Linked DNA regions of Homo sapiens. The protein of the gene in region 6 interacts with the protein of the main gene of each other region in a pairwise test. Each region holds a gene or a part of one and is shown on either strand. Other genes may lie near its edges. The genes, in order: KRTAP15-1, CAMK2A, CRYBA1, MSX2, SUMO1, RHOXF2 and CRX.

What was found.
Region 1: the proteins of RHOXF2 (region 6) and KRTAP15-1 interact in binary tests that used the Homo sapiens proteins (3 or more experiments, as listed by UniProt).
Region 2: the proteins of RHOXF2 (region 6) and CAMK2A interact in binary tests that used the Homo sapiens proteins (3 or more experiments, as listed by UniProt).
Region 3: the proteins of RHOXF2 (region 6) and CRYBA1 interact in binary tests that used the Homo sapiens proteins (3 or more experiments, as listed by UniProt).
Region 4: the proteins of RHOXF2 (region 6) and MSX2 interact in binary tests that used the Homo sapiens proteins (3 or more experiments, as listed by UniProt).
Region 5: the proteins of RHOXF2 (region 6) and SUMO1 interact in binary tests that used the Homo sapiens proteins (3 or more experiments, as listed by UniProt).
Region 7: the proteins of RHOXF2 (region 6) and CRX interact in binary tests that used the Homo sapiens proteins (3 or more experiments, as listed by UniProt).

Annotation. Positions count from the first base shown.
Region 1 is NC_000021.9:30,438,991-30,441,369, reverse strand, and holds KRTAP15-1 (keratin-associated protein 15-1), read right to left. Parts: upstream 1,096-2,379; 5' UTR 1,043-1,095; coding exon 629-1,042; 3' UTR 501-628; downstream 1-500. UniProt on the Homo sapiens protein: In the hair cortex, hair keratin intermediate filaments are embedded in an interfilamentous matrix, consisting of hair keratin-associated proteins (KRTAP), which are essential for the formation of a rigid and resistant hair shaft through their extensive disulfide bond cross-linking with abundant cysteine residues of hair keratins.
Region 2 is NC_000005.10:150,244,774-150,248,273, reverse strand, and holds part of CAMK2A (calcium/calmodulin-dependent protein kinase type II subunit alpha), read left to right. Parts: intron 1-459; coding exon 460-502; intron 503-3,072; coding exon 3,073-3,113; intron 3,114-3,500. UniProt on the Homo sapiens protein: Calcium/calmodulin-dependent protein kinase that functions autonomously after Ca(2+)/calmodulin-binding and autophosphorylation, and is involved in various processes, such as synaptic plasticity, neurotransmitter release and long-term potentiation.
Region 3 is NC_000017.11:29,245,368-29,249,658, reverse strand, and holds the start of CRYBA1 (beta-crystallin A3), read right to left. Parts: upstream 2,801-4,291; 5' UTR 2,796-2,800; coding exon 2,765-2,795; intron 518-2,764; coding exon 453-517; intron 1-452. UniProt on the Homo sapiens protein: Crystallins are the dominant structural components of the vertebrate eye lens.
Region 4 is NC_000005.10:174,723,416-174,727,381, reverse strand, and holds the start of MSX2 (homeobox protein MSX-2), read right to left. Parts: upstream 2,801-3,966; 5' UTR 2,723-2,800; coding exon 2,344-2,722; coding exon of another isoform or gene 2,318-2,343; exon of another isoform or gene 2,315-2,317; intron 1-2,314. UniProt on the Homo sapiens protein: Acts as a transcriptional regulator in bone development. Represses the ALPL promoter activity and antagonizes the stimulatory effect of DLX5 on ALPL expression during osteoblast differentiation. Probable morphogenetic role.
Region 5 is NC_000002.12:202,228,598-202,232,097, forward strand, and holds part of SUMO1 (small ubiquitin-related modifier 1 isoform a precursor), read right to left. Parts: intron 3,448-3,500; exon of another isoform or gene 3,051-3,447; intron 1-3,050. UniProt on the Homo sapiens protein: Ubiquitin-like protein that can be covalently attached to proteins as a monomer or a lysine-linked polymer.
Region 6 is NC_000023.11:120,161,613-120,163,871, reverse strand, and holds part of RHOXF2 (rhox homeobox family member 2), read right to left. Parts: intron 415-2,259; coding exon 85-414; 3' UTR 1-84. UniProt on the Homo sapiens protein: Transcription factor maybe involved in reproductive processes. Modulates expression of target genes encoding proteins involved in processes relevant to spermatogenesis.
Region 7 is NC_000019.10:47,838,937-47,841,380, reverse strand, and holds part of CRX (cone-rod homeobox protein), read right to left. Parts: intron 2,062-2,444; coding exon 1,414-2,061; 3' UTR 1-1,413. UniProt on the Homo sapiens protein: Transcription factor that binds and transactivates the sequence 5'-TAATC[CA]-3' which is found upstream of several photoreceptor-specific genes, including the opsin genes.

The DNA.
Region 1 (2,379 bases), on a different chromosome or scaffold from region 6:
CTCTCAGATTCAAGTGATTCGCCTGCCTCAGCCTCCTGAGTAGCTGGGATTATAGGTGCACACCAGGCCTTGCTAATTTTTGTATTTTTAGTAGAAATGGGTTTTCACTGTGTTGGCCAGGATGGCCTCAAACTCTTGACCTAAAGTGATCCGCCAGCCTCAGTCTCCCAAAGTGCTGGGATTACAGGTGTGAGCCATCATGCCCAGCCTAAGTGTATTGTATTAACAAAATAAAATGGAATGCCAGAATTCATGCCAAAGAAATAAGCTTATTTAAAATATTGTAACTATTTGAAATATATTTGAGTGGAAGAGTTCTGGGAAAATAATGAGAGAAGGATTTTAGAAAGATGATAACAGAAATGATCCTGAGCATTGGCACAAAAATTGAAATTCAAGATATATCTCCTGTCAGATTTAGGAAGGGTCCTAGGTCAAGATTAATTTGTCCGTGTTCAATCATATACTTCCAAGAGGGCTAGGATGCTGAGTCCTACTGATGTAGATGGTCAACAATCACAGATATTGGACAGGCTGAGTGTTGCAGTTCCATAGAGTACAGAAATAATCATGAGAGAATGGAGAATATTCAGTAAGATGATCCAAAAAGGCGAGACCCAAAGGCTGGTTAGTAACAAGTTGCCTGGAAATTCCTGGATGAAAAGGTAGTTGGGTGGTAGAAGCTGGACCCACAGTCCAGAGATTGGAAGCCAGTGCTTCCACAACCAAGAGATCCAAGGCCAGTGTTTCCACATCCAAGGGATCTTATGTAGTTAGTCTGGCGGGGACTGCAGAAGATGGAATTCTTTGGGCAGTAACAGGATGTCTGATAGGATCTGGCCAAAGTGCAGGATGTCTGGCAGCTGGTGGGCTCACAGTAGGTCTCCTGACAGCCATTGTAGAGAGAGGAGCCCAGTTGGCAGGTATTTGGAGAATAGATGGCATTGCTGGGGTAGAACAAATTATAAGTGGAAACTGGATACCTCAGGTAACTTCCAAAACAGCAGGAGGAGAAGTTTCCAGAGCTGCAGTTGTAAGACATGTTAACAGGAGTTCTGAGCTCAGGTGATTTGCAGTGAGGAGCGTGTGTGTGTGAATGTTACCTTCTATACTGGACACTGACATACTCTAGCAATAGGTGTAGTCACAAGTGCCCATTCTAATGAGAACACTTAATTAGGCTGCAGTCAAAATGAAATATATTAACACTCAAAGAATTTTATTTATGAACGTAGACTTCTACATGAAAGAATTTCATTAGTTTTTCAAAGCAATTGTTCATGAAACAAAAATGCCATTTCTCATTCATCTTGCTTAGGTAGAATGAAAACCACCATAATTGTACCTATAAGACTGATGCTTCAAAGGGTCGGGCGCGGAGGCTCACACTTGTAATTCCAGCACTTTGGGAGGCTGAGGCAGGCATATCACGAGGTCAGGAGTTCCAGACCAGCCTGACCAACATGGTGAAACTCCGTCTCTACTAAAAATACAAAAATTAGCCGGGCATGGTGGTGGGCGGCTGTAATCCCAGCTACTCAGGAGGCTGAGGCAGGAGAATTGCTTGAACCCGGGAGGCGGAGTTTGCAGTGAGCCGAGATCGTACCACTGCACTCCAGCCTGGGAGACAGAGCAAGATTCCATCTCCAAAACAAACAAACAAACAAAGAAACAAAAAAACAAAGAAAAAAACTTGATGCTTCATTCATCCTGTCCTTCTAGAAATTGGATCAAACGGCTAAGACACTGAGAGTTCTGGTATTTGTAAAGATCTGAAAAATACCTTGTAATCTGGAAGGGACTTTGATCTTGCTCCAATTTTATAAATTCAATTGAGAACAGAAAAAAAATTTCAATATCTATTCCTTCTTTCAATTCTTTGAACCATTAGAAGAAATAACCCAATAACAATCCTTATTTGGTAGACATGCTAAATGAGTGCCTAACATATTTAAGTTTAGATTTCTTATAACACAAGTAGCTAAGTCACTCTTGTGCACATGAAGAGTTAAGAATGAAGGGTGAAATTTTTGAACAAGTGCTTTGAAGTTTACATTGTAAAACTACTAAAGAAATCCCTTACTCAAAGGTTGATTTGCTTCTTCATAGAAGTCATCAATAAGTTTGATTATAAAAAACCGTTTATCCCCATAAGGTATAAGTAATTTTTGGTCATGTTGATGTTACTGAGAGGAAAATAATAAGCACTATAAGTAAAATGTAAATCGTTAATCTTTTCCTTTCTTTTCTCTCAGAGGGTGACATTTTTACCAGAGAGGGAAAAGAAAAGCAAGAAATGAGGGAAATGTCTATCCCATGTAGTATTCACAGAAAGATAAAATATGTAAAGAATTCATAGTAACAAATGACTTTATAAAT
Region 2 (3,500 bases), on a different chromosome or scaffold from region 6:
GAGCCCAGGGGCCATGGAGGGATGAGCTAGTCCTGGAGCAAGATGCTCTCAGCACGGGGCAGAGGGCTAAGAGGTGGAGGGGTTGGGGGACACGAGGTCTGCTGTTGTTGCCCAAGCAAGAAAAGTCCATCATCTTCAGGAGCCTCTGCTGGTAGGTGTCCCTCAAGCTCTTCAGCTTGGGCGGGCCAAGGGGCCCATTAATATCTGCCCCTAGGACGGCCTTGTCCCAGGAGCTGTACTGGCTAAAGCCTAGCTCACCCCGACTTCTCCAGGGGGCGAGGGATGGGCTCTGGGCTGGGGTTGGGGTTGGGACAAATGGAGGGGCAGGGCAGAGGCTTTGGCTTCTTCTCTGAATGCAGCACCTGCCTCTCCTTCCCCGTGGCCCTCCCGTCTCTCTGTCCCTCCTGGGTCCCTTCACTCCGGCCTCCTCTCCCACTGCCCTCTTCTTATGTCTTGCAGGGAGCCATTCTCACCACGATGCTGGCCACCAGGAACTTCTCCGGTAGGTGGCAGGACCTCAGGGTCCCCAGTAAGCCCTGCACCAGTTCGTTGGGGGCACCGTCCTGTCAGATATTGGAGTGCCCCCAGGCCACTGGGCCTGGGGAGAGGGAGTTGTAGAGGACTCTGTGACTAAGGGCTTAGCTCACCTGCCACGGCCTGTACCCAGAAGTGAAGAGAGGTCAAAAGTCAGCAAGCCCAGGGCCCACCAGGACTGGTTACAGATTTAGTCTGGCTGCCCACTCCTACAGCAGTGCTGGGGTTCTCAGGCTGGGCCGCCTAGAGGGGAAGGCTTCTGATTGCAGGGGATTGAGTTCTAGATGGGGTGGAGCCAGGTCCAGGGAGTAACAATATTGCCCACCATGATTGGAGCCCTGTGCTAAGCAGTCCCGTGCTTCCACTCAGGTGGCCTACATGACAAGGCAGCAGAGGGGATGATGGGGGTGCTGCCATCCCTATTTCTGGGATGAGGAAGCAGAAGCTCAGGAAGGTGAGCTCTGACTTGTCCCAGGTCACATGGCTAGAGAGGCAGAGCCTGCATTCAGCACAGGTTTGACCAAACCCAGGGCAAGTGCCTTTAACTGGATTGGGTCACCAGTGAGTCCAGGGCAGGAGCGTCCCAGGCCCTTGGCCAAACTGGGCTGGTTAAGGCAGGGAGTGCCCAATCACCTGAGGCATGTGGCTTTGCAGAGAGAAGGGGAAGGGATTATTGTCAGGGTTTAGCAAGAAGCTCCTCTTGGCACATCAGAGAGGGCTGGGGCCAGTGCCCTCCAGAGGCTTCCTTCTGGGGAGCGCAGGCCGCTGGCAGGCAGTAGAGGAGATATAGATAGCAGATAGAGCAAAGCTCACCCGAGGGGCCCTCTGACTGGGGCTGGGGCCAGCCGAGAAAGCTGCTGCAGATTTGTGGCCAGCACCACAGCAAGAGGGCAGCTCTGAGAAGGGGGCAGCTGGCTGCATTGAGTGGGTCCACCTGCCCATGTAACCAGTTGGGAGGAGTGAGACCCAGAGGTGGGCAGATACTAGAACTTCTGACTGGGCTTTTCCTACCTCGTTAAACTGCCTTCCCACCCTCTCCCTGGACAAGGATCCTGCCATTCCGTAAACTGAAAGATGAGCTACCCAGATAGTCAGAGTCTTTTTTTAACAACTGAAGCACCCTAAAGAACTCTAGTCCTGAGCTCACAAAATGGCGGCCTGTGAGCTGGATTGAATCTCTTGATATGCTTTGTGGAGGTAGGGGTGTTTTAAAAATTTTTTTGAATGAGTTTCTAACACTTAAAAATTAGGAAATTTCATAGAAAACCCCAGATTGCTGTCGTCTCTTGAAAATTAGACGCTGTGGCCTCACTGGACCCACGATCCTGTGACAGTAGGCTGGAGCTGAGAGGGGCGTCTACCTTGAGGCTCGAGGAGAAAGCACTCCCCCTGCCCCACTGCACATCCTAGTCCAACCCTCCAAAGCCTGTGGTGAATGGACAGCCATTCCTGTCAGCTTCGGGATCCAGAGGTGGCCCCTGCCTTGGTTTGCAAGTAGGGAACTTGGAATGAGAGCCTCGAAGGGGTCATAGGTGGAAATGTGGGGGTGACTGGGAAGGTGACCTGCCATGAGCCCCATGCCTCAGAGCCCCTGGGGCATCAGTGGCTCATATGACCCTCCTCCCAACTCCCCCTCTCAAGGCCACCAGGAGAAGTCTTATCATGGCTACCATTTCCTGAGCATGTGCGGCTTATGGGTCAGGTGCTTTGCTAAGTACTTCACAGATACCTTGTTTCATTTAAGGTATTTGCTTAAGTCTGAAGCAGCCGGATGCCTGTGGGCAGGGCTGGACATTCAGGCCATTTCCTGGCTGATGCCCACTTCCAGGGCTCTGGCCAGGAGGTGAGGAGGGAGGTAAGGGGAAATGACAGCAGGGGAAGCCCCCAAAGAGCTGTTGCTCTGGTTGTCCCTGCCACCCGGGCCATAGCCAGTGCCAATATGGGGCTCTGGAGTCTGAGGTTGGGGAGGCCTATATGGCCTGAGGAGAGAGGCAGGGGATGGGTGCTCTGGCAGGGTGGGCCCCAGTGGGGGCATCTGCTTCTTGTCACTGGCAAGACGCAGCCTGCAGCTGTCCGGAGTGAGTAGGCAGGGCTGACACATGACCTCCGCAGCAGCATGGGGCTAAAATTAGAGAGGGCCAGGGTGGGGAGGGCGTGTCCAGCCTGGGGCCAGGCAGCCAGACCTCGGGTTGGCCACCGCCAGCACGGTGGTGACAGGGATTCAGAGGGAATCCCCGGGCTGAAACAGCAGCCCACAGTCCTGGGACATGTTGGACACCTCCCTCAACCCATGAAGCCAGAGGGTTACGCTTGAGATTGCTGAGAAGGCGGGGAACCCAGGCAGTCCCTGGGCCTCCAAGGAGGGAGGAGGAGGAGGAGGAGGAGGAGGAGGAGGAGGAGGCCTCCCCCAGGATCGCTGGGCCAGCTCTGCTCCCTGCAGTCTGCCCTCCGGCTGCGTGTGGATGCTGCTCGTCCTCGCCCTGTGGGCCCTGGTGCCCTGCCTGGCGTTGTTAACCCTCTACTTTTTCTCCTCCACAGGAGGGAAGAGTGGGGGAAACAAGAAGAGCGATGGTGTGAAGGTAAGCCCCTCCAGGAGCCTGGCAGGGCTTGGCTCTGGCAGCGTTTCTGCCAACAGAGACCGGCTTTCAGGCCTGGAGCAAGACCCGGGCCTTGCTGATGGTGTCCTGGGCAGACGTGGGCCACATTTGTGGCCAGGCTGTCTCCAGACCCACGACCTAGGCTTTGGTGCCCACCGTTGCGCCGTGACTGTTGGGGGGCAGATGGGAGAGGGGGGACTGGAGGAGGGTGGAAGTGACAGGTGTGCTGGGGTGGGGGCAGGCGCAAGGAAAGGGGCAGGTCAGAAGGAGATTTCTGTGGTTCTCCGAGGCTGGAGAGCTGGTGTGCAAGAGAGGGTGCAAGGAGAGGACAGAAATGGTCATGAGGGGTGACCTCCGTCCTGCCTATGT
Region 3 (4,291 bases), on a different chromosome or scaffold from region 6:
GGAGAGTGGGGAGTGTTGGAGAGAGGCCAGTGAGAGGCCTGAGGATCAGCCACTTCGGCCAATGGTTAAAGCCAACCTCAGGATGGGAGGCTGAGTCCTGTAATTTATTTGGGATCTAGTAGTAAATATCTTTATGGGCCCTCATTTTCTCCATGGACATAACTGTTGCTGGGCTGCTGTATTTTAAGATGACTTTAGTGGGGAGGAGAGAGGAGTTAGGAAACTAGGTATCATCTCCCACCCATCAATGGCATCCACAGTCATCCTTCCTTTGTCCAGTGGGACATCCTGAGAGATCCTTCCTTCGACAGCACTGGAGCTTGTGTGGACCTTTCCCCTACAAACTGGGGTTTTTCTGGTCAGTCACTGCCTTATGGACGAGCACAGGCCTGGGGCCTGCTCTGTGCAGCATGTCACCCCTGCCCTGTTGGATGTGATGGGGGTGGGCTTACCTTCCATGGCCCCAGGGACCCCGGCGTAGGGTTGGTCTGAGCCATCTTGGTGGTTGGAAGGGTTTCTGGAAGACAGAGCACACACGAATGATGTGGCCTCTTGGGAGGAGGGGGAGGTGAGGGAATGCCTTGAAAGGTAAAGGAGACTTGAAGTCTGCAAGACAGACTTTGGTTGAAATTCTGGCTCTGCTGCTCACTAGCTGTGCCTCGGGGTTTGTTGTTGTTGTTGTTGCTATTTTGAGACAGGGTCTTTCTCTGTCATCCAGGCTGGAGTGCAGTGGCACAATCTCACTTCACTGCAACCTCTGCCTCCTGGGCTCAAGTGATCCTTCCGCCTCAGCCTCCCATGTAGCTGGGACTACAGGCATGCACCACTATGTCCAGCTAGTTTTTGTATTTTTAGTAGAGATGGGGGTTTCACCATGTTGGCCAGGCTGGTCCCAAACTCCTGACCTCAAGTGATCCACCGCGCCCAGCCTGAGCCTCAGTTTTTCCATTGGTAAAGCTTCGACATGCAGTTATTGTAAGGATCAGAAATAATAGGCCGGGCACGGTGGTTCACGCCTGTAATCCCAGCACTTTGGGAGGCCAAAGCGGGCGGATCACCTGAGGTCGGGAGTTTGAGACCAGCCTGGCCAACGTGGTGAAACCCCGTCTCTACTAAAAATACAAAAATTAGCCGGGTATGATGGCACACGCCTGTAGTCCCAGCTACTCGGGAGGCTGAGGCAGGAGAATCGCTTGAACCCGGGAGGCAGAGGTTGCAGTGAGCTGAGATCGTGCCACTGCACTCCAGCTTGGGCAACAGAGTGAGACTCCATCTCAAAAAAAAAAAAAAGAAAAAAAACAAGGATCAGAAACAATAATGCAGGTAAAGCACTGAGACCCTGTCCTCTCACTTGCTTTCAGGTGACAGCATTACCTCTGTCTGCAATATAAACTCTTTGGCAACCACCTAGGCCAGACCCCTCATGTGACTGGCCAAACAGCCAGCCATGCCAGGATCCCAAGCCCCAGACTCCCTCGTAACCCTTCACGGTCTCATCCTTATCTGGCCTCTTTCTGCTTTTCTTTTTCTTTTTTTTTTTTTGAGATAGAGTTTCACTCTTGTTGCCCAGGCTGGAGTGCAATGGCGCAATCTCGGCTCACCGCAACCTCCGCCTCCCAGGTTCAAGCGATTCTCCTGTCTCAGCCTCCCTAGTAGCTGGGATTACAGGCATGTGCCACCACGCCCGGCTAATTTTGTATTTTTAGTAGAGACGGGGTTTCTCCCTGTTGGTCAGGCTGGTCTTGAACTCCCGACCTCAGGTGATCTGCCCGCCTTGGCCTCCCAAAGTGCTGCGATTACAGGCATGAGCCACGGCGCCTGGCCATTCCTTTCTGCTTTTCTATCTCCTAGATCCTACCCAGCCTTGACCTTGCCTTCTCAGAGGCTTTCCTGCCTTCTCCAGCCCACAGCCACTTGCTTGCTTTCTTGATTTATAGCACTCATCACAGTACCAATCTGTGTTCTGGTTGGATGTCCTGGTGAGCACCTCAATGGCAAGGCCTCGGTCTTCTAGGGGATTGGTATAGCATCGTGCTGAGCACATGTGGAGATGAGGGATCAGGGGGACATTGAAAAAGACTTATTGAAGGAAAGTGAAGAAGAAAAGAGTTATAATACTTACACTCAAAAATGGCTATCTACATGTCCGGCCCTGTTTTAAATGCTTTACATGCATTCATGCATTTAATCTTCACATACAGACTATGAATTAAGAATTATCATTATCCCCATTTTACAGATGAGGATACTGAGGCTCAAAGAGGTTAGGTAGACAGTGAAGATGGTAGGACGAGTTTTAAAAAAGGAAGGACAGAGCAAGAAAGAGGAAGGAAAAGTGGGGGAGGAAGGGAAGAAGGAAGACAGGCAGGTGTGTATTAGGTTTCTTAGGACAGATATTCATGGCCCTCCTCCTGGCTGGTATTGGGCCCAGGAATGATGCATGTCAACTCTGTAATATATTTTTCCATTCTGAATCTCTGAATAAGCAACATTTCCCAGGTCCTGCTCCCATACCTTCTCCCTGCTCGTTTCTTGGGGGCCCATGCCCATCCCCCAGCCTTAGTTGCTAGGGCAGTGGTTATTGCTATATAAGTGACTCCTCTTGGGGTGACAAGAGAAGGCTGTCTTCCGCCAGAGTTCCCCACTCTTCTCCAGCCACCCTAGAAGGCTCTACACACTAGGCAGGAGAACTGGGCCCTCTCCTGGGCATGTCTCTGCAGGGCAAGGAGAGGAAGGGCAAGGGCACCCTGAGGGCCTTACTCACCCAGCTCCTGCTGCTCAGCCTGGGTCTCCATCTGGTACCACTTGCTCTGTGGCCCTCCTCTTTATAGCCCTGCGGCCTCTGGCCTCTGGCCCTGTCAGCACTCTGCTCTCCCTCTGCCTTTGTTCCTCATGATCCCCAGAGCTTTGGTGGCTCAGCTTGCTGGGGCCTTTGTTTAAACCAGGGATACAGAAATCCAGAGAGGCCCCTCTGTTGTGGGCATGGCTGGCTGCTGCAGGCCTTGGCTTTCTTAATCTCTCAGAGCAGCTAGGGGGTGAGGACAGAAGTCTCTGCCATGAGTACTTGTCTCTTGTCCTTCTCCAGGTTCCTCACACCACCTTGGGATCTTCCTAAGACCTTAAGACCCTGGGAGACCCCATGTCATATCAAACACATCAAAATGCACCTCACTTCCATACAGATGTGCATTTCTTGTTGTTTAAAAATGTGAAAGAATTATTGTAATTCTGAACTCAATATGAGAAAAAATGGTTCATTGTATTCTTGGGAATCTTTATTATGCTGTATTTATATATAACTATGTAAGGGTTGACTTCAATTATAGTTGACTAGCAGACATGTGTCTCTCTGTAGCTATTTTATTAAATATTCCTTTTAATTTTGCAATTTTCTTTAAAAATTTTGGAGCTATAACTTTTGGGTTTTTTAAAAAAGAATTAAACCATTTATTGAATAATTCCTATATATTAGACATGTGCTAAATGCTTTACTTAAAAAGTTTGAATTAAATACTTTTCCACAACAAAAGAAAGAAATACTTTTTCACAGCCACCACAACAGTGCTATTTTCACCTCCATTTTCCAGATTAAGAAACTAAGAGAACAATCAGGTGACTTGCCTAAGGTCACAGTATTTATAATGGCAGAGCCAAGACTCGAATCCAGTTCTAACCAACACCAAAGTCACTGCCCTGCACTGGCCCTCCCTCAGGAGTAATGCATAAATGGCCCAAAAAATTCCAGGAGAGGAAAGAGACCCCCCTGGCTAGAACTGCAGTTCTGAATATAAACACTGAGCATATAATGGATGTAACTTATCTGTTTCAAAAGGGGAAGGAGCCTAGAAATGAAGCAATTTTTCCTCCTCAAATGATCTTGGCTGCCTGTCCCTTTGTCTTCCATGTTAATTCCTTTCACCATTCTGCTCCCAAACAGGCCAGGTCCCACATCAGTTCCAGGAGGAAAGGGCTCTTTCAGCCTGCGGGTCATCGTTGGGCAGCAGTAGGAAGGGGAAGAAGGCAACCTTCTGAATACCTCCTTTGGACTCACCATCTAGATGTAAAGGGTTCACCTGCTCCATCTCAGATTCCCGGGGGCCTTCCTGTGAAGTTGTCTAGGCAAGCGGTGATAGGGACCTAGATGTCCTTGCTTCTCCCCTCTAGCTCACCCAGGCCAGGGGCGAGAATTCCTGCCACCCACACCTTCAAAACCAATTTTTTTTTTCTTTTTGAGACAGAGTGTCGCTCTGTTGCTTAGGCTGGAGTGCAGTGGTGCGATCTTGCCTCACTG
Region 4 (3,966 bases), on a different chromosome or scaffold from region 6:
AAATCCAGGTGACCGGGATCGCACATGTGTATCAAAACCATGAAGCTATGAGGCTTCCTCCCAATGCAACACTCCCCATCCCTCCACCCCCACCTAATTTTAAACCAGCCAGAGGAAGGATGCGATTATATAAGGCAAAACAGCGTTTATCCTACTTCCTCCAAATAACAAAATCAGGCCCGGGCGGGTAGCTCCCTCTCGCCCCAGGCTCCGTCGCCTGGCATTCTCAGGACCCACTACTCTGACCACAGGGTTCCCGCTGCCACCTCCAGGCCCAAAGCACCAACAATTCTTCATGGTGTTTTTTTTTTGTTTTTTTGTTTTTTTTTACTTTAAGTTCCGGGATACATGTGCAGAATGTGCAGGTTATAAACTCGGTTCTCAGAATTTCTGGTTCTTTTCATGGGAAGGTCACAGCCTGGGCCCGAGGTTGCCTTACCCAGAGCAGGGAAGCTTGAGCACAGGGCAGAGATGTTTAGAGGGGTAGTAGTCATTGCCTTTCCAGACCCACAGGCCTAAAGGATGGCAGGATTCCTAACCTCTGGACACTACTCCATTTAAGGCCTGTATCATTGGCTGGGCATAGGCGTAGGCTATGTACTCAATATTTGTTAAACAAATTAAGTCTTTTAATTTTCTGAGCCTCTACCTCACTGTCGATAAAGTGGGTAAGTAACACTAATCCCTCAATGTGGTCCACAGTACTAAAATTTTAAGAGTACCCAGAGCCCTGTCTGTCTGCCACCTGGTAGGTGATCATTAAATGGTCCCCAGCTTTTTTTTTTTTTTTTTTTTGGTCAGGCCCAAACTGCCGATTCCTCTCTGAACTTTGCTGAAATGTCCTCATCTGTTAAGAGGCCGGCTGCTGCCCTACAGAGGAGATAAGATAATACGGTGAAAAGTGCTATAAAGCACTATCCAAACTTGAGTTTAAATTCTTTGAGTCCCTTAATCTCCTCGCCCTTTGAATCTTTCAGAGTTTCTAACAGGGTGGAGAGAGACTGCCAGAGGGGACAGCCACTGACGCCTGGGTATATGGCCTTGTTTTGTTAACAAAATACAGTGCGTCTAGTCTTGAGGGCTGAATGATGTAAATAGTGAAAGGATCTCTCTCAGCTTTGGAGAAAGTCCCTCCACAGCCCCCACCCTCACCTTTCCTACAGGTAGGGGATGGCGTGGTGGGAAATTAGGGGGTAGAGAAACCATAAAAGCCAAGAGATAAAAGTAAAAGAGGCTGTAAAGGATGACGTCTCCAAATTGTAAAAGGACTCAGGGACCAAAAATGGATGCTGAAGCGGAGAATTCTCTGCAGCCTCAATTCTCAAGTGGGGTGCAGGTGCGGATCTCTACCTAGTCTCTCTGGGGAGAGGACGCAAAAGTGGTCAGGGCATATCAAACAGAGGAGCAGGGCGTGGGCAACAGGTGCCCCTGGCCAATCAGTGGTTGTTGGTAACCTGGGACAAGCAAAGGCCGTCTTCTTTAAAAGCCTCAGCGTCCACGTCTGAAAAATAGGGTAGTCACAAGTCCAGTGTCTACACTTGGGGGTTCTAGTGAGGATCTCGATCTGGTGAGCTAGTGAACATCACTCTGCAAACTCTCAAGCCCTGCTGGAATGCGGTTAATTATTACTGTGAGCCAAGAAGAGCCCGTGCGCTTCTGGCCCCAGCCCGCTCCCGGCGAAGCTCAGAACCTTGCCGGGGAGGTGCTGGCTGCGGAGACCACAGAGAGACATTTCCTCCCCGCACCAGACTCTGATGCCACCATCCCTGGTGCCACCATCCCTTCGTGGGATCCGGCTTCGACACCCGCGGGACTCACGAAAGAAAATGGTTTCTCCTCAATGTCTGGCTAAGCCCAGTTAGCTCATCTTTAAAATGGGGGCACAACTCTCAGGGTTGAGTTTTGAACCTGTCTCGTTCCTGGTACATCCAAGTGCTCACTGAACATGGATCCAACTCCTTCACTCCCCAGGCAGAGACTCCGGGGAACAGTGAAACAAAAACAAGCCAAGTGGCCAGAGCGCAGGGCCGAGGGCTGTAGAAACGGACCACCGAGCGACCCCGTAAACCCAGCTGGGGTTCGCTCTTGAAAAAACAATCTGTATGTCGAGGGAGTCTCAGACACACACAGCGCGGTTATTACCCAGAGGGTGTCTTGGATGCGGACGGCGCACTGGGCGCGCCGAACGCCCCGGGCACCCAGGAGTCCAGAGGCCCTGGGCTTGCTTTCCCGGGAGTGTAGCGCACGCAGAAGGGTCTCGGTACCCTCAGCCCTGGAACACCCGCCCCCCGCTCCCTCCAGTACCCCGCGCTACCTCCTACTCCTGCCCCGGCGCGCACTCACTTGGCGGCGGCGAATATCGGCCGGGTTCCTGCATCCACGCCGCTCCATCTTCTGAATTTTCCGACTTGACCGAGGCGGTCTCGAAGGGCTTCACCAGCGGCCCGGGGCTGTGCGCTTCCCGAGCGCCGTGCCCCGACAGCAGCAGTGGCCGCAGGGTGGCCCCGGCCGAGGCGCTTTCGGCCGGCAGCGGGGACGCCTCCTTGGGCGGCTTCTTGTCGGACATGAGCGCCTCCACGCTGAAGGGCAGGCTGGAGACCTTGACGCGGCGCTCCTCCGCGGCCCCCTCGGCGCCCCCAGGCCCCGGGCCTGGTCCGGCCACCACTGCTGGGCCCTCCTCGTCGGGCGAAAACAAGTCATTGCCTTTGGACGGAGAAGCCATGACTTCTCTGCCCTACGTAGCTCCCGACGCGCGACTCCGCTGGCAACCCGGCAGCGGCGACTCAAACTTTTTTGCTGCGGAGACGGGAGGGGCGCGCTGGGAGCTGAGCCTTTCCTCCGAGGGGAAGTGGGAGACGCGCGCCGCCAATCCGCGCCGGGCCTGGCGCTGACGCCAGAGACGCTCGCCCCTGATTGGCTCTTCCCGAAGGGGCTGCCCCCCCTCCTTTTTTTTTTTTTTTTTTTTTTTCCTGTTTGAAATAAATTAGGAGTTAATTACAGGAGCAGTCAGCAGAGTTGTTATTAGGCGATCCCTGAAGGGTTATAATCACGCCGAAACTGAAAAGCCCGAGACCTAATTAAGAGCGATTATTTAAAGCGGAAGTTCGCCGAGTCCCATTTCTTCTCTCTTTTGACCCTTCTTTAAAAGGGACCCTGCGCCCATCCCACTCTCCCTCTACCGCCAGAATAAGTTCAAGATTCGCAAACAGCATTGCAGAAACATTTACGAAGCCCCTACTATGCGTCAAAATTGGCTTACTTTACAGTTCCAGAAAGTCGGTGCTGAAACTCACAGGCCAGTATCCCTGTGAAAGAAATGTATGCACTTAGAAGAGTAACTCGCCACTAGCCAGCGCTCAAAAGCGCCCACTGTTATTATTACAACTCTTTCCCCTGGAAAAGAGGGGCCGGAAGGAGCCCGAGAAGTGGTCAGGAGTGCCTCTCTCCCAAATGGTTCGGAGTGAAGAATTTAAATCAGTTGTCCCCATCTCTCTCACTAGAAAGCAAATCCAGCGCACTTTTAGAAAGTTGAAATCTCTGTACTTGTCTCCTGAACCTCCTTTCTGAGCGCGATCCGGATCCGACCTTTTTCTCAAGACAGTGCAAGTGTGCATTCATGAGTTTGTTTGAGCCTGTGTTTGTCGTGCGTGTTTGAATGCCAGTGTTTGCCTCGGAGGGTAATGGGGGTGGGGGGGAGGAGGAAAAGTCGCCAATATCTAGTGCCTCCCTCTCGTTTGCAAGTCTCAGAAATACCGGCTTCCAAGTTTGCACACCCCAGGCCTACATATCATTTTGGGAAGCACATTTTTATTCATGGCACCTGGTTTTTTATAAAAACATAGATGTCTCCACCCCACCCCAAATTATACCCTCGGTAATTCCTTTCCAAAGCCTCAGTGATGACTGTCTCAGCCTGGGGAAGGGGAGAGCGAGCTTCGAGGATTAGAGGCCTCGGATCTCTCCGCT
Region 5 (3,500 bases), on a different chromosome or scaffold from region 6:
AAAAATACAAAAAATTAGCTGGGCGTGGTGGTGGGCGCCTGTAGTCCCAGCTACTTGGGAGGCTAAGGCAGGAGAATGGCGTGAACCCAGGAGGTGGAGCTTGCAGTGAGCCGAGATCACGCCAATGCATTCCAGCCTGGGCAACAGAGCAAGACTGTCTCGGAAAAAAAAAAAAAAAGTCACTCCAAGCTTCAAATTCTATATATATCAATTTATTTTATTTCCTAATGAAGAAAGCTCAAAAAGGGTTAAACAGGATAATTCTAATGCACCATTAAAAGGGAAAAACCGAGAATTACAGTGAAGTCACTTCCCTTATACTTAAATAATTTACCACAATTCCATTTTATTTATTTATTTATTTTGAGTCTCGCTGTGTCACCCAGGCTGGAGTGCAGTGGCACGATCTCGGCTCACTGCAAACTCCGCCTCCTCAGTGGCTGGGACTACAGGCGCACACCACCACACCCAGCTAAATTTTGTATTTTTTCATAGAGACAGGGTTTCACCATGTTGCCCAGGCTGGTCTCGAACTCTGGTGCTCAGGCAATCCGCCTGCCTCGGCCTCCCAAGTGCTGGGATTACAGGAGTAAGCCACTGCACTGGGCCCACGATTCTAAAAACACAAAAATATATGTATATTTTCATCTTCATGATGCATATGTTCAAACTTAGTAAGACGGTACTAGAGATTTAGAACAGAACTGACCAGATTTAACTGTATAACTTCAAGGTTTAGGTCAAAGCTGTCAACACAATGGGCCTCTGAATATTTACATTCAACCCTGAATGGTAGTTAAACACTAGTCATGCACAGATAGCTTCTCAGGAACTCAAAACTATAACTAAAAATTTTACTGGTTGTGTAAACCTTACCCTTTGAGTCTAGACCTATGCTAAGCCTAGAACAAACCAGTTTGATTGCATCCAAAAGTACTAGCAAACAGACTTGGAAGTATGACAGACATTGTTAATTACCTATCTGGTATCTATTTTCCCTTTCTTCCTTACAAAGGGAAACCTAAATTTACCCAGATAAAAAACGTATTTCCCAGCTTCTTTTATACCCATTTTGGCCAAAGAGATATAAAGTGAACATACTTTTTCCCTTTTCTCCTGTCTGGAACACAAAGTAGCTTTTTTGTGCCCACAAGTAGACAAGCACCAGAGTGAAAGACTGCTGTTAAGGATGGAGAAGAAAATAATATGAAGGAACTGTGGAGCTACCACATCAGCCTTGAGCTACTTTTGTCTACATTTCTTGTTTTATGAGAAAAAAAAAATTGTTTAACCTACAATAAATCAAACTTTCTGTTATTCAGCCCAAAAGTAATCCTGAAATAGAAGGTGCTATAAAAGGTATAAGTTTGGCTCATATTAAAAACAGGTGCTAGAAAATTCCTCAATGGGCATCAAAAGCAGAATGAATAAGTAAATTGAGTGTACTGCATTCCACACAATGGAAAGCCACACAGCAATGAGATGTAATAACATACAACTATATACAATAATAATGAACAAACCTCTAAACAGTGCCGGGCAAAAGAACCAACACACAGAGATACATACTGTATGATTTCACTTATAAAATGTTATGCTGTATAAAAACAGACAAAACTATTCTACTTGTTAAGTCAATACAGCAGTTCTTCATCTGAGTGCTGGTTGCATGGATGTGTTCAGTTTGTGAAAGTTCGGCAAACCAAACACTCTTGTGCACTTTTTTGTATGTATATTACTCTTTGGTAAAACCTTTAAAAATAACTGGCCCTAGATATTGAGAACAACCAGCCCAGCAAACAAAACTCCACCCTTCCTTCCTTCCTTCAGGTCTTTTCCTTCAGATCCTCATTAGCTCAGAAAAGGCAACTGAATGCAAAAATAGCCAAAAAATATAACCGATACAACGTATCTTTAAGTAAACATAGTCACGTTGCAGGAATTATCCAGATTTTAAACTGTAAAACTAAGGTGCTCAATAACAGTATCTGTGTGAACTTTTCCCCATGACTCTTTTAAAAAGAAACAGAATATCAGCCGGGATGGCGCAGTGGCTCATGCCTGTAATCCCAGCACTTTGGGAGGCCAAGGCAGTCAGATCACCTGAGGTCGGGAGTTCGAGACCGGCCTGACCAACATGGAGAAGCCCCATCTTTACTTAAAAAAAAAAAAAAAAAAAAAAATGAAATTAGCCGGGCGCAGTGGCTCACGCCTGTAATCCCAGCACTTTGGGAGGCCGAGGCAGGCGGATCACTAAGTCAGGAGATCAAGACCATCCTGGCTAACGCAGTGAAACCCCGTCTCTACTAAAAATAAAAAAACTTAGCCAGGCGTGGTGGTGCGTGCCTGTAATCCCAGCTACTCAGGAGGCTGAGGCAGGAGAAATGCTTGAACCCAGGAGGCAGAGGTTGCAGTGAGCAGAGATCACGCCATTGCGCTCCAGCTAGGACTCTGTCTCAAAAAAAAAAAAAAAATTAGCTGGGCATGGTGGCACATGCCTGTAATCCCAGCTACTCGGGAGGCTGTGGCAGGAGAATCGCTTGAACCCAGGCGGCAGAGGTTGTGGTGAGCCAAGATGGCGCCATCGCATTCCAACCTAGGCAACAAGAGCGAAACTGTCTCAAAAAAAATTAATTAATTAAATTAATTAAGTAGAATATCAGCATTATATATATATACTTTTTTAAATCACAACTTCAGGGAATTCCAAAATGGAATGCTAAAGATGTCTTAATAAAAAATTAACTGGGCCAGGCACCGTGGCTCATGCCTGTAATCCCTGCATTTTGCAAGGCCAAGGCAGGCGGATCACCTGAGGTCAAGAGTTCAGGACCAGCCTAGCCAACATGGTGAAATCCCATCTCTACAAAGATCAAAAATTAGTTGAGCATGATTGCAGGTGCCTGTAATCCCAGCTACTTGGGAGGCTGAGGAGGGAGACTCACTTGAACCTGGGAGGCGGAGGTTGCAGCGAGTCGAGATGGCACCACTGCACTCCAGACTGGGTGACAGAGCGAGACTCCGTCTCAAAAAAAAAAGATTATCGGCCTCTCTTCCTTTATCTGCCATCATGGTGTGTGCTTGACTCCACTTCTCGCCATGTCTTCTCACAAGACTTTCAGGGTTAAGTGATTCCTGGCCAAGAAACAAAAGCAAAATTGACCCATTCCCCAGTGGATTCGGATGAAAACTGGTAATAAAATCAGGTAAAACTCCAAAAGGAGCCATTGGAGAAGAACCAAGCTGGGTCTATAAGGCATTGCATGATACAACATACTTATGCTGTCTGAAGGTCACAATCATGTTACCATATCGAGCTGAAAATGTCACCACTATCTAGAGAGTTGGACATGTTTTATTGGGAATATATTTTTTTCTCTGAATCTGTTATGAACGTGTTGGTTGGCTAGGTTCAGTAATAAATATGTGAGACCTTTCATTTTTTAAAAAAAAAATCATCCTTAACAATCCCAGTGTCCTGGAAGAAGTAAATGATTCAA
Region 6 (2,259 bases):
ATGAACTACTTTTGATGGGGTGCTATGCAAAATATGAATCTGGCTCAAAGACACTCTGGCAAAAAGTGGCACAGAGGCTATCCCTTAGACATTGGGGAATGTGAAAGAAGGCACGATAACAAAAGGGAATGGGCCAAATTCAGCCTGGCCAGCGGGTGGCATAGGTGGAAGAAGCATGAGTGGAAGGGGCAAGGACGGAGGAGGAAAGGGTGGCATGGGGAAACACAGGCTGCTGGAATGGCTGTGGTCCCAGAAGTAATCATCTCTCATCCCGCTGATGAACAAGGGTGCCGTTATGGCCTCAGCTGCGGTTACCATGACAGGCTGGCCCACTGCCATGAAGGGCAGCATGTTTCTTGCCATTAATGCCCTCTGATGTCTCCTCCATTTGGCTCTTCTATTCTCAAACCAAATCTTCAATCAGAGGAAAAAAGAAACAGGTTTAGTATACTGAGCATTTAATTTCATCATGGAAAAAAACACAACAAGCAACTCTCTATGTCCTTAACCTTTTCGGGTGTATCAAGACAAGCTACTTCCTTACTACTAAAATATCTTAGAAAGGTGACCACCACACCTTTCCCCTAGTGAGCTCCAAGTATGTGCTACGTACGCTCTGGCTTGGCTTATTTCTTTGTCTCTCTCCTTTTATCTGTAATATTACTTTTTCCACTCTTGGGTGCAGGTGTAGCTGATGAGTGGGACTCGATCCCTGCTGGTATTGCTATGTGTGGCATGTCTGCTTGCAGATACTTGACCATCAGCTACCCAGCTGCCCACCAACTCCTACTTACTAGGCCACTGTCACCCTGGTCGTGGGGGAAGCTGAGCTTGGAAAAAAAGGCGGGGGTGCCTTTTAAAGTCATACCAAGAAGATGAGGCCCCCGTTTTGAAAAGCCCATCTTCAGTGTAAAGTAAAAAATCGGTAAGAGTACATTGTATTTTAAAACAAGTTTTCTTTCCTTCAAGAAATTCTAAGGGGTCATTCATCTTCTGAAACTCCTTGAGAATTAAAAAGATGGTATATTGCAAGGCAAGTCTCGTTATAGGGGGCCCAGGGAGTTTGTGGATTGTCTTGCTGGGAAATGAGGGTATCTGAAGCCCTGGACACTCTTCACACTTCAGCTTGAAGCTTTGTGGAAGGAGGACACAAATGTTGTCCAAATTCACAAAAATTCTCAAAAAGCTTTGCCCAGTTGAGAGTTTGAGAGAAAGGAAGCATTGCTAATTCTGCACGCTCCAACTCATCCCTCCCTCCAAATCTTCCTGGGCTAAGGACAAGGTCAGCTCACTTTGTTCTCCCTATAGTCCTGGGATATGGGACAGAGACTTGGTTGCCCAGTTCCATGGGACGCCTTCAGCCATCTAGCCTCACTACTCGAGCAGAAGATCCCAATCTCATCAGCATTCCCAAAGCGGGAGTGTCCAAATAGGCAACTCTGAACACGTTCAGTAGTAATGTGGAGGAGGTATCAAAAAACACTACTCCCCAAACACCTGCCAATTGTTAAAAGACCAAAAAATAAAACCTGTCAATTAAACAACACTATCCCCCAAGCTTCTAGTTAATGACATTTCCATTGTATTTTGATCCTTCTGGAAGTTCCCAAACTGCAAATTTTATGGGACAAAGGGACTCTTCTCCCTGTTTGATGCCCCATTTCCTTCTCCCATCTTACTATTTGGAGTCCTTCTCCCTCATGAATACATAGTCTAAATTTTAAGCCTACCGTAATAGTGCTTGTTTAGAGACAATTCCAATGTACCTGTGGTCAAAGGTTCATAAACATAAGCAATGCCAAAAGTGGGCCAAATGTGCTATGGGACAACATTAGGTCCCTAGTCTCCGTATCGGTTTCATAAACCAGCCCTTACTATCTTTACAAAACAGAGGGGGGAAACATCTATTAAAAATTTTTGGAGATATTCATGCTGAAATGTTTGGCAATAGATGAGAACATCATGCCTTTTTCCTTATTTGCTGAGTGAGAGTGGTCCTTTTGCCTTCAGAACTGCATTGAGTGAATGCTATGTAAACCCAGGGAGGGGAAAGGCAATTCACCAAAACGTCAATATTTCATCTCCCCCAAATTGGCATTGCCTGCCTGAGAAAATGGAGGGCAACAGGATGCCAACACTCAGTGCCCCGTTTTGTCAGGCAGCTTTTCTGCATGCCACCATTGACAGAACCGCAGCATAGTTCCCTCACTGCACTCACACACATGAGCTCTGCAGAAAAGCTATTAAGGTCATCCCGAT
Region 7 (2,444 bases), on a different chromosome or scaffold from region 6:
CCTAAAACAAAAGAAAAAAGGAGTAGAGATGGAACAGGCAAGGTGCCTTTCATTTCCCTACCAAATACACACATTCCCAATGTGCTAATGAGCGAATGAGTGATAAAATGTCTTTAAAAAGAAACTAAGAAGAAAAAGTACATATATGTATAGCTACATATATGAATGTAGATCTTTGTCTCTCAAACGGTCCCCTAAACCTACCATGTAAGCCTGACATTTGTGAAGTCTGTGAAATTCCCAGATAATTTATTTTTAATGTAACCACATCATTGGCCTAAGGTTTCCCGACGGGGCTTCTTAAAGTCTGTCTTTGGAATTTCTAGAAAGGTCCCTAACCATATGCTAAAGAAGTGTCCACGTGTAGGGCCAGGCACAATGGCTCATGCCTGTAATCCCAGCACTTTGGGAGGCCGAGGCAGGCGGATCACTTGAGGTCAGGGGTTCCAGACCAGCCTGGCCAACATGGTAAAACCCTGTCTCTACTAATAATAGAAAAATTAGCCGGGCATGATGGAGCACACCTGTAATCCCAGCTAATTGGGAGATTGAGGCAGGAGCAACGCTTCAACCCGGGAGGTGGAGGTTGCAGTCAGTGAGCTGAGATCACACCACTGCACTCCAGCCTAAGCAAAAGAGTGAGACTCCGTCTCAATTAAAAAAAAAAAAAAAAAAAAGGGCCGGGCGCGGTGGCTCACGCCTGTAATCCTAGCACTTTGGGAGGCCGAGGCGGGCGGATCACGAGGTCAGGAGATCGAGACCATCCTGGCTAACACGGTGAAACCCCGTCTCTACTAAAAATACAAAAAAAATTAGCCGGGCCTGGTGGTGGGCATCTGTAGTCCCAGCTACTCGGGAGGCTGAGGCAGGAGAATGGCGTGAACCCGGGAGGTAGAGCTTGCAGTGAGCTGAGATCGTGCCACTGCACTCCAGCCTGGGCGACAGAGCTAGACTGTGTCTGCAAAACAAAAACAAAACAAAAAAAAAAATTCTGTCCACGTGGAAAGTTAAGTTATCAAGCCCCCCTACCTGCTTGTTCAAGGGCACGGTGATTCTGACCTAAACATGACCCCAAATCAACTGCAAGTTTGGTTTGACTTCTTCTTGGAGCAAGTTCTCAGCACCACTTTCTGAAGCCTGGAGCTCGTGGTGTACTTCAGCGGTCACAATCGTGCCAGACGGTGTTAGGGTTGAGAGAATCACTAGGACCTGTGAGCTGTCCCAGGAGAGGGAGGAGCCTCTCCCTGTGGAGGAAAGGGGTGGTCTCTGTAAGCTGAACACCGAGCTGTCAGAAGGACAGCTGGTTCGGGTTGCTTTCTCAGGAATGCCATCCCGGGATCTAAACTGCAGGGAAGCAGATTCAGAAGAGAAAGGGTCCCGAGGCCCGATGGAGAGAGATGGAGACTGCGTCCTCTACAAGATCTGAAACTTCCAGGCACTCTGATCCTTGTAGTCCAGAGGGTCCATGGGATTGTAGGTGAATTTCCAGGTGCCCGTGGGGTCCTTGAATTCCAAGCTATCCACGGGGCTGTAGGCGCCATAGCTCTGGCCTGATAGGGAGGTGGGGGACTGGGCCAGGGAAGGTCCCACGGAGGGGCCAGAGAGGGGGCTAAGAGCCGGGCCCCCTAGCTGGGGCACCATGGGAGAAAGGTAGGGGTCTAGGCCGCTGAAATAGGAGCTCGGAGACCCATAGGCGGAGGGGGAAGAGCAGAAAGCGGAGGCCGGGGCGTAGGTCATGGCATAGGGGGCGGAGGTCAGAGACGGCCCTGAGGCCACCAGCCCAGCCCGCTGCGCCTCAGGCAAAGGGGACTCTGAGGCTGGGCTCCAGATGGACACAGTGGCCACTGCCGTGGTTGGGGAGCCTGAGGGGCCGGGCAGAGGGGGACTGTAGGAATCTGAGATGCCCAGAGGGTCTGGACACACATCTGTGGAGGGTCTTGGGGACGTGCCCGCCTTCCTCTTGGCAGGCCGGGCCTTGGCCTGGCCCCCTGGGGGCTGCTGCTGCTGTTTCTGCTGCTGTCGCTGCTGCCTGCATTTAGCCCTCCGGTTCTTGAACCAAACCTGGGGGATAAGAGCGGAGATGGGGGTGGGTAAGTGGGGAAGAGGCCCAGGAGAGCCGCAGGGTGCCCGGGGATGAGGACACTTATTGGTGAGAGGTGCTGGGTTCACATCTGTCTACTTTGCATCCAGCTGTGGGGCGTCTATTCACCCATCCATCCATCTATCCATCCAATCATACCTGCATGTGTGCATGAACACATGCATACATCATACCCATGTGCATTCATCCCATCCGTCTAATGCAAACATGCACACGTACAATTATACATGCATACACCATACGCACATACATCATGCCTGCATTTACCCATCGATATGATCATACATACATCATACACATATTCATCCACCCATCTAATACAAACATGCACACGTACAGTTAT